Homo sapiens: one gene and its partner. The protein of the gene in region 1 purifies or fractionates together with the protein of each later gene. This does not show direct contact. Each region holds a gene or a part of one and is shown in the gene's direction. Other genes may lie near its edges.

Region 1 (5,387 bases):
GAATGAGTGTTGAATTTTGTTAAATACTTTTAACAACCCAACAGGAACCACCATCAGAAGCCATCCAGAGAAACGCACCAGGCCACAAAGCACTGGGGGCCAGGGATCTTGCCCCTGCTGTCTGCCATGGGTTGACCCCCAGCCTCCAACCCTACCATCCCCTGACGGTGTCTGCAGCAGTTGAACCCAACCAGCATCTAAAAGAACACAGTTGGTGAACGAGACTGGGACACAGGGCAAGATGGGTGGACAATGGGAGGCTCCTGGAGAGCACCCGTACCAGCGAGCATAGAATTCATGGGGGTGACCTGTTCCCTGAAGCATCTGCGCGTGTTGTTCCAGCATTTTCTTCAAGGATTGAGCCAGCAGCACCAGTGTCATACGGTGCTTAAATCAATGATTCACAACCAACCAATGAAATACAAGGTGCCGGCTGGGCGCGGTGGCTCACGCCTGTAATCCCAGCACTTTGGGAGGCCGAGGCGGGCGGATCACAAGGTCAGGAGATCGAGACCATCCCGGCTAAAACGGTGAAACCCCGTCTCTACTAAAAATACAAAAAAAAATTAGCCGGGCGTAGTGGCGGGCGCCTGTAGTCCCAGCTACTTGGGAGGCTGAGGCAGGAGAATGGCGTGAACCCGGGAGGCGGAGCTTGCAGTGAGCCGAGATCCCGCCACTGCACTCCAGCCTGGGCGACAGAGCGAGATTCCGTCTCAAAAAAAAAAAAAAAAAAAAAAAAAGAAATACAAGGTGCCTGGGGTACAGGCAACAAAAATGGGGAACGGAGAAATCTTCCCGTTGAGGTAGAGACTCCAGCCTGTTTGCTCATCTCTGGTCCTGAAGAGCCCAGTCCCCGCCCTAAGGATGGGGTTTCTGCTCGGCAGCACTTGCCGTGAGAGGGGTGAGGCACTGGGTCACGCCAGCCCTTTCTTTATAGCCCCCAGGGTTTATTAGAGTGTGCATTAGTATTATTTAGCAAGCACTTGAGGGTGTCTGATCTTGGGCCAGAGAGGCACAAAGATTGTGTGGGCCCAGCACCTGCCTGCAGAGCGTGGGTCAGCCTTGGGTCCCAGGGCAGATGACGCAGGCCCGGGAACTACAGGGTCCAGGAGGGAGAAGGCAAAGTTCTGGCTCAGGTTGGCTGGGGATGAGGCCAGCGGAGCCAGGTGCCCAAGGGAGCTCAGCCACAAACTCTGAGCACAGGCTGGCAGGTGGCTCTTGATGCTCATGCCACCCATTTATCTAAAGGGATGAGATTCAAGGCCTGTCCCGGTGGCTGGGGGCCGTCGAAGCTGACGAGAGAGGGGATGTAGAGTGAATGTATATTCCACTCTACCACTTGTATTTAACAGGGAGATGGATGATGAACACGTGCAGGAAGAAACAGGCAGGACAATCCAGAGAGATCACGTGTTCTGAGGACAGCACAGCCAGGCTCCGGTACGGAGTGAAGCGGGGTGGGGCAGGCGGCGGGGTCCCTCATATGGCCCGAGGAGGCCGTATATATACTGACCTTGAACCACACAATAGTGCCCTTCTCTGCCCCTAGGAAGCTCGAGTGCAGGGTCCAGGTGGGGAAAATCAATGCAGAGTGGGTCCCAGAGTGGGCGGAAGCTTGGGCTCTAGGGCGTGCGGGACTCAGCTGGCAGCAGCCCCACGTCTCTATGGTTCTAAAGCCCAGTCCATTTCTGCTCAGCAGGGAGATGGCCAGTTCCCCAGAGGACTTGCCCAGGGTCCCAGCCGTGGCCCTGGGAGGGCTCAGGGGTGAGGGAGGAAGAATTCCGAGCCGTGGGCCCTCCCTCTGTGGCTCGGGGTGCAGACGTGCACTACCCTGCCCTGTCCTCTGGAGTCCTCCGGGCTCATCCAAGTGGGCGCATTTGGATGCAAACCCTGGACAGCATCGTGTGTCTTTTCTTCTCTGGCTGGCACTGAATTGCTGTTCACCAGATGCCAGCAATGAGGACACTCCCCCTCCCGGATGCAGGACTGGTTGCCACCATGGGGAGGGGTGCACCGTGCCACGTGCTCCCAGGACACTGGCCAGGGGGCTATAAAGAACATCTCGAGAGGAGCCAGCACAGCCTTGTTCAGACGCCCAGTGACCTGCCGAGGTCGGCAGCACAGAGCTCTGGAGATGAAGACCCTGTTCCTGGGTGTCACGCTCGGCCTGGCCGCTGCCCTGTCCTTCACCCTGGAGGAGGAGGATGTGAGCTGGGTTGGCGTGGGCGGATGGAGGAGCCAGGTGGACTCCTGGGCAGGGGGCAGTGCCAGGGGCCCTGCTTTAGGAGGTGTCACTGAAGGCTGGCTTCTGACCCCGTGCTCCCAGCCTGGGGTGGTGGTGGAGGGGTCCTATTGTTCCTCCAGCAGACACGGCCCCCCGAGGCCCAGGGCCGGAGCAGGCTCGGCTCAGGGGTTCCTGCTGCACTGACGCCTGAAGCCCGAAGGTCTCGCAGGGTTGGGCCCTGTGGAGGGAGGGCTCACCTGGTGCTGGGGCCCGGGGGTCCATGGGGTGCAGACATGCCCTCCTTCCACTGGGGGCTGGGAGCCCTGAGCAGGGGGCTGGCTCTAACTCACTCCAGCTGAGCTCTAACTAAGGTGCAGGAACCCAGCCTGCCTTTAGGGGTGGCAGCCGGGCACCATGGGTGTCTGGTTATAGCTGCAGGCCTGAGTGCCAGGGTCAGAGTAGAATCTGGGCCACCCATGGTGGGCTCACGGCCTTGGCCTGCTCCAGATCACAGGGACCTGGTACGTGAAGGCCATGGTGGTCGATAAGGACTTTCCGGAGGACAGGAGGCCCAGGAAGGTGTCCCCAGTGAAGGTGACAGCCCTGGGCGGTGGGAACTTGGAAGCCACGTTCACCTTCATGTGAGTGTTGCCCACTGCAGGGCCCCTCAGGCCACTTTCGCTCCCCGCCCCAGACCCACCTGGTGCCCATTGCCCCATCCACATTTCGGGTGTTGGGAAGAGTCACCCCCTGCCTTGGAGGGAAACAGCCAGGACATCCTGAAGCTCGGTGGGGTGGGGGGGCAGTGGAATTTTCAGGTTGCCGGGTCAGGGCCATGCACCAGGTGAGCTGAGGATGGGCCAGGTGTGTCCTGGGAGCCGCTGCCCGAGTGTCTCCTGTTTTCCAGGAGGGAGGATCGGTGCATCCAGAAGAAAATCCTGATGCGGAAGACGGAGGAGCCTGGCAAATTCAGCGCCTGTGAGCCCCTCCCCGACCCCCCACTCCCCATGCCCAACCCCGGATGCACCAGCCCCACTGCAGGTGGAGAGTGCCCAGGCCACACTTCTGCCAGGGTCCCAGCCCTGCCCACCTCCAAGGAGGGGCTGGCCTCTCCTTCCTGGGGGGCTGGTGGCCCTGACATCAGACACCAGGTGTGACAGGCTTGTCCACAGTAGAGATGGACCAGATCAAGCCTGCCCTCTGGGAGGCCCTAGCCATTGACACATTGAGGAATCCGAGTGTTAGGGACCAGGAGGCCGAGGGTTAGGGATGGGAAGCCAAGGCTGAGGGTTTGGGATCAGGAATCCGAGGGTTAGGGACAGGGAAGTGGGGCAGGAGCAGCTGCTGGAGCTGGGAAGGCCGGACTCTAGTCCTGGACGTGCTCTGGCCTTGTGGCTCCATTACTTGCATTGGGACCTTCCGAGAGGAGGCTCCTGCCTCCGTGTCCGGGTCCATGCTGTGCGGAGCAGCCAGGCCTGGCTCAGGCTGTCCAGGGCACCTGGGTGACCACTGAAACATTCCTGAGTGTTTCTTCGTGTGGTCCTGAGTGCTCTCTCCGGGAATGAGGGCACTGAAGACCCATCTTCTCTGTCATCTACAGATGGGGGCAGGAAGCTCATATACCTGCAGGAGCTGCCCGGGACGGACGACTACGTCTTTTACTGCAAAGACCAGCGCCGTGGGGGCCTGCGCTACATGGGAAAGCTTGTGGGTGAGGGGCCCGCTGGGGCCTGCATGTCCTGCCCCATGGTCTCTGCCTCCAGAAGCCAGTGGAACCACCATCATCACGCCCTGGCACGGGGGGAAAAGGAAGCCCCCTGCGCCGGCCTTCGTGTGCTAGGCACCAAGCGCTGCCCTGGATGGCTGGTCCAAGTTCCTGAAGTGGGAGTGGGGTGGGCCAGGCAGGGACAGACACGGCCCTCGGTGACATGAACCTGCCAAGGGCCGCTTGTGGGGTCTCAGGTGTAGGGGCCTCACCTTAAGGGGGAGGTAGCATCTTAACAGAGCTCTTCATGGGGCAGGGACTCTCCAGGGCGGCAGGGCAGCCAGTGCCTCTGGGACACAAGGTCCCTCCAGGTGAGGGTTATGACCCTGCAGAGTGGCTTTGGGAGCTGCCCAGGTCCCCCTGGGGTTGCTGAGTGGCTTGGACCCTGCCACTGTCCCCTTTCCTGGGGACCTCTCACCTGGGCGGTGGCCGTCTCCTCTGTCCCCAGTCCCACCCCTGAGCTCTTGTCCATTCTCAGGCCTCCTCTCCCCCTTGCCTGGTGCTGGACAGTTGCCATCTCTTCTGTCCCCAGCCCCACCCCTGAGCTCTGATCCACTCTCGGGCCTCTCCCCCGTCCTGATGCTGGGCCGTGGTCGTCTCCTTTTAGCATCTGCTCCCTGCAGGGCCGTGCCGCTGTCCCCACCTTGGCTCACCTGGCCACCTCACCTGCAGGTAGGAATCCTAATACCAACCTGGAGGCCCTGGAAGAATTTAAGAAATTGGTGCAGCACAAGGGACTCTCGGAGGAGGACATTTTCATGCCCCTGCAGACGGGTGAGGACGGCTGTGCCCAGTACCCCGTGTTCCCCTGTGTCTCTGTGTGATCTCCAGTGTCCCATGACCCCCATGTCCTCCCATGTCCCCCGCATTCCCCGTGTGCCCCGAGTCTCCTCGCAGGGGCTCTGGGCCCTGCTTAGCATCCTCGTCGTTGGAGGGTCTGCACTCTGGGCTGCGATGCGGTCTGGGGCTCCGCGCTCTGGGCTGCGATGGGGTCTGGGGCTCCGCGCTCTGGGCTGCGATGGGGTCTGGGGCTCCGCGCTCTGGGCTGCGATGGGGTCTGGGGCTCCGCGCTCTGGGCTGCGATGGGGTCTGGGGCTCCGCGCTCTGGGCTGCGATGGGGTCTGGGGCTCCGCGCTCTGGGCTGCGATGGGGTCTGGGGCTCCGCGCTCTGGGCTGCGATGGGGTCTGGGGCTCTGAGCCCTGGGCTGCGATGGGGTCTGGGCCCTGGTCTAGGGCGCCTTCTAATCCCTGGGTTTTTCTTGGTCTCTGCAGGAAGCTGCGTTCTCGAACACTAGGGTGAGTGAGCCTTTAGGAGGGCACTGGACAAGCCCAGAGTCCTGGGTTCCCGGGGTTCGAGGGTACATCTGCTCTGGCCCTTCCCATCCCACACAGCCAGGG
Region 2 (4,684 bases), on another chromosome or scaffold:
AAAATCTGTTTAATAAGATGAAATACACCAAATAATATAAATGAAATAAATGTATCAATTTCAGTTTTATTATTCAGGCTGAATGATTCCATTCTCCAACGCTCGAAATTCAGTCTCCTCTCTAGAAACTATTTATTTAAGGTTCTTCATACACTAGTGTGAGAAGAGTATTTTCAGCAACTATACCAAAAAGTGAATAGGATTCTCTTTTTTTTTTTTTTTTTTTTGACAAAGTCTCTCTTTATTGCCCAGGCTAGATTGCACTGGTGCAATCTCGGCTCACTGCAACCTCACCTCTCAGGTTCAAGTGATTCTCGTGCCTCAGCCTCCCGAGTAGCTGGGATTACAGGCGCCTGTCACCATGCCAGGCTGATTTTTGTATTTTAGTAGGGACCGGGTTTCACCAGGCTGGCCAGGCTGGTCTCAAACTCCTGACCTCAGGTGATCCACCTGCCTCGGCCTCCTAAAGTGCTGGGATTACAGGCGTGAGCCACCACGCCAGGCCATAAATAGGATTCTTAAATGTAGCATATTTGATTCTATTAGTAGACTTCATGTTTTGTGTAATTTTGCTCCCGGCGAGAACAACATTTATATAGAACAATGACACAAAAAACATTGGCTCCCGGGGCATCAATAAATGCACAGCAGCCACTAAGAGTTGGACAATTACACCAGGGTGTATGATAATAACCTAAGTTGCTATCCTAGTCACCTCATCATGTGGCTTTTTGGCATGTATTTTATTTTATCCTTTTAAATTTAATTTTAAACTAAAACTTTAGTTTTTAAAAATTTTTCTGACTTTTATTTTCCTAATTATATTAAACTCTTCTTTCAAAAGGGTGTTAACTCCTTGAGAACTATGTAAGTGTAAATTTTTATCGATCAGGTAGAGAATCATTGGCTTAATAGATGTCACAAGTCCAAATGTCTATAGATGTCAGGAAATAAATCTAAGAGTGACTGGAGGCCATTAACTTAAGTGAAACAAGCTAGATGCAGAAAGATAAATACTGCATGTTCTCACTTATAAGTGGGAGATAAATAATGTGTACACAAGGATGTGGAGTGTGGAATGATAGACAATAGAGACTCAAAAGGGTGAAGGAGTGGGAAGGTGTGGAGGAATAGAAATTACTTATTTGTTACAATGTATGTTATTTGGGTTATGGATACACTAAAAGCCCTGACTTCACCACTATGCAATCTCTGTGTGTAAAGAATCTGCACTTGTAACGCATACATTTATATAAATTAAAAAATGAGAAAAAAGAGTGATGAGAGCTTGAATGGAACAGGCAGGATGTAATGCAACAGAGAGGAGATGGCACTGAGGGAACTGGGGGTTTTGTGAGTGAATTACTGTTAAAAAGGAATGTAAATTCAGTATTGCCAGATCTTCTGTTTGTTCTTTTATTTTGAGAGAAGACAAAATTTAGATTCTCTTTACTCTTTCTTTTTCTTTCTTTCTTTCTTTCTTTCTTTCTTTCTTTCTTTCTTTCTTTCTTTCTTTCTTTCTTTCTGTCTCTCTCTCTCTCTCTCTCTCTGTGAGTGTGTGTGTGTGTGTTTAAATAAAAATCTAATTACTAAATACTGGCAACAATTCAACCATCATATAGTGTGCATTCACACACACTCACACACAATTTCAGCTGGGATATATCTTATAGACAGCCTAATCTGGGACTCAGAGAGAAAGTCTAATGTTAATAAAGAATCAACCCAAATAATGAAAATTCATGAAAGGCAGAGAAGCAAGTCCCATTTCTTTTTAGGCCAGTTCTATTCTATGCCAGGAAATGGGTCCAGTATTGGGGGCTTTGCCCATTGTTCTGGCTGTCTATTCTTGGTAACAAACCATCTCCATACAGAGTAGCTTAACGCAATGACAAATTTCTTTTGCTCACAAGTCTGAAATTTGGTGGGGACAACTCCAAAGTGGGTGGTTGGAAGAATATGAAGCCTTGTTTCCTTGAAGTTATGGCTGGCAGTTGATGTTGGCTCTTGGCAGGGACCTTGCCTGGTGCTGTGGTAGGATCATAGCCTCTCTGTGTGGCTGCTTGACTTTGTCACAGCATGGTGGCAGGTCCCAAGAGGGAACCAAGAGGCCAGGTGGCAACTGTACAGCCTTTTATGACTTAGTCTTTCACTGTGGTCACAAGCCCACTAGATTCAAGAGGGAATGTAGACTCTATCTGAACATCACGTAAGAAGACAGTCACATGGGAATTCAGCAGTGAAGCCCCAAGTCTTGGACTTTCTATGTTGGGGGAGACTTTTTATTACTGATTCAATCTCATTACTGATTGTTGGTCTATTCAGGTTTTTTAGTTCTTCTTGATTCAGTCTTGGTAGGTTGTATGAGTCAAGGAATTTATCTATTTCCTCTAGGTTTTCTAGTTTGTGAGTGTATTGTTGTTCATAATAGTCCCTGATAATCTGTTGCATTTCTTTGATATCAGTTATACTTGTCTATTTTTTCATTTTTGATTTTATGTGGGTATTCTCTTTTTTTCTTGGTTATTCTAGCAAGTTGTTTATCAAGTTTGTTAATCTTTTCAAAAAACTAACTTCCTTTTATTGATCCTTTGTATTTTTTTTGTCTCTGTTTTGTTTAGTGTTGCTCTGATCTTTATTATTTCTTTTCTCCTACTAATTTTGGGTGTGGTTTTTCTTGTTCTTCTAGTTTTTTTTAGGTGAATTATTAGATCATTTATTTGAAATCTTTCTACTTTTTGATGTAGGTGTTTGTTGCTATAAACTTTCCTGTTAGCACTGCTTTTACTGTACCCTATAGGTTTTGATATGTTATGTTTCCATTTTATTTCAGAATTTTTTTTTCCTCTTTAATTTCTTTCTTGACCCATTGGTCATTCAGGAGTATGTTGTTTAATTTTCATGTATTTGTGCAGTTTCCAAAGTTCCTCTTGTTATTGGTTTCCAGTTTTATTTCATTGTGGTCTGAGAAGATACTTGATATGATTTCGATTTTTTAAAATTTGTTGAGACTTGTTTTGTGTCCTCACATATGGGCTGTCCTAAGGAATGTTTCATGTGCTGATGAGAGGAATGTATATTCTGTAGCTGTTGGATGAAATGTTCTGTAAATGTCTGTTAGGTCCATTTAGTCTAATGTGTAATTTAAATCCAATGTTTCTTTGTTAATTTTCTGTTTAGATGACCTGTCTAATGCTGAGAGTGGGCTATTAACGTTCCTATTACTGTGTTGGAGTCTATCACTCCCTTTAGATCTAATAATAATTGCTTTATAGATCTGGGTGTTTTGGTGTTGAGTGCATATGTATTTAGAATTGTTGTATTTCTAAATATATATGCAGCTCTTGCTGAGTTGATCCCTTTATTATTACATAATGACATTCTTTGTCACTTTTTAGTGTTTTATACTTAAGGTATGTTTCACCTGATATAAGCATAGCCACTCATGCTCACTTTTGATTTTTGTTTGCATGGAAGTTCTTTTCCCATCCTTTAATTTCAGTTAGTATATGGCTTTACAGGTGAGATGAGTATGGTAAGCAGTGTATAGTCAGGTCATGTTTTTTAACCCATTCAGCCAGTCTGTATTTTTAAGTGAAAGTTTTAATTTGTTTACATTCCGGGTTATTATTGATATGTGAGAGCTTATTCTTCTTATTTTATTAACTGATTTCTAGTTGTTTTGTGTATCCTCTGTTCCTTTCTTACTCTCTTATTTTTTATTATTGTGGTTTTGTGGTTTTTCTGTAGTGGTAACCTTCTAGTCTTTTCCTTCTTTGTATGTTTGCTCTAGTAGTTTTTATATTTCATGTGTTTTAATGATATTAGATATTGTTCTTTCACTTTTGGGTGTAGGACTCCCTTGGCATTTCTTATAGATCTGGTCTAGTGGTGATAAATTCCCTCAGCTTTTGCTTGTCTGGGAAAGACTTCATTTCTCTTTCATTTTATAAAGAATAACTTTTCTGGGTATGGTATCCTTGGTTGGCAGTTTTTTTTCCTTTCAGCATCTTGAATATATCAGCCCATTCTTTCCTAGTCTATAAGGTTTCTGCTGTTAGTCTAGTCTGACAGACGTACCTTTATAAGTGACTTGATGCTTTTCTCTTGCTTTTTTGAGTTTTCTCTGTGTCTTTCACCTCTGATATTTTGACTATAATGTGCTGAGCAGAAGAACTTTTTGAATTGTATCTATATGGAGAACTTTGAGCCTCTTGTTTCTGGATATCTAAAGTTTTTTGCAAGACTTGGGAAGTTTTTATCTATTGTTTTGTTAAATAGGTTTTCTAACTCCTTCATTTTCTCTTCACCTTCTCAGATCCTAAATTCAAATACTTGGTCACTTTATGATGTTATATAGGCTTTGCTCATTCTTTTTTTATCCTTTTAATTTATTTTTGTCTGAGTTATTTCAAAATACCTCTCTTCAAGTTCTGAGATTCTTTTGCTTCATCTAGTCTGTTGTTGAAACTTTAGAATGTATTTTTTATTTAATTCAATGAATTCTTCAGTTGTAGAATTTCTGTTTGGTCTCTTTTTTTATGACATCTATCTCTTTGGTAAATTTCTCATTTATTTCCTGAATTGCTTTTCTGGTTTCTTTGCATTATTTTTCAGTATTCTGTTGTGTCTTACTGAGCTTCTTTAAAATCAATATTTTGAATTCTTTTTTGGGGGGTATTTC

The links. The genes of interacting proteins can lie anywhere in the genome.
Region 2: the proteins of OBP2A (region 1) and MOXD1 purify together in Homo sapiens (affinity purification with mass spectrometry, with the first as the bait; one large-scale study listed by BioGRID). This does not show direct contact.

What each region holds. Positions count from the first base shown.
Region 1 is NC_000009.12:135,544,047-135,549,433, forward strand, and holds the start of OBP2A (odorant-binding protein 2a isoform alpha precursor), read left to right. Parts: upstream 1-2,079; 5' UTR 2,080-2,134; coding exon 2,135-2,206; intron 2,207-2,731; coding exon 2,732-2,865; intron 2,866-3,131; coding exon 3,132-3,202; intron 3,203-3,824; coding exon 3,825-3,935; intron 3,936-4,596; coding exon of another isoform or gene 4,597-4,661; coding exon 4,662-4,763; intron 4,764-5,261; coding exon 5,262-5,284; coding exon of another isoform or gene 5,285-5,285; intron 5,286-5,387. UniProt on the Homo sapiens protein: Binds and transports small hydrophobic volatile molecules with a higher affinity for aldehydes and large fatty acids, including undecanal, palmitic acid, efficient aldehydes, benzenic aldehydes, heterocyclic aldehydes and aliphatic acids.
Region 2 is NC_000006.12:132,394,479-132,399,162, reverse strand, and holds part of MOXD1 (DBH-like monooxygenase protein 1 precursor), read left to right. Parts: intron 1-4,684.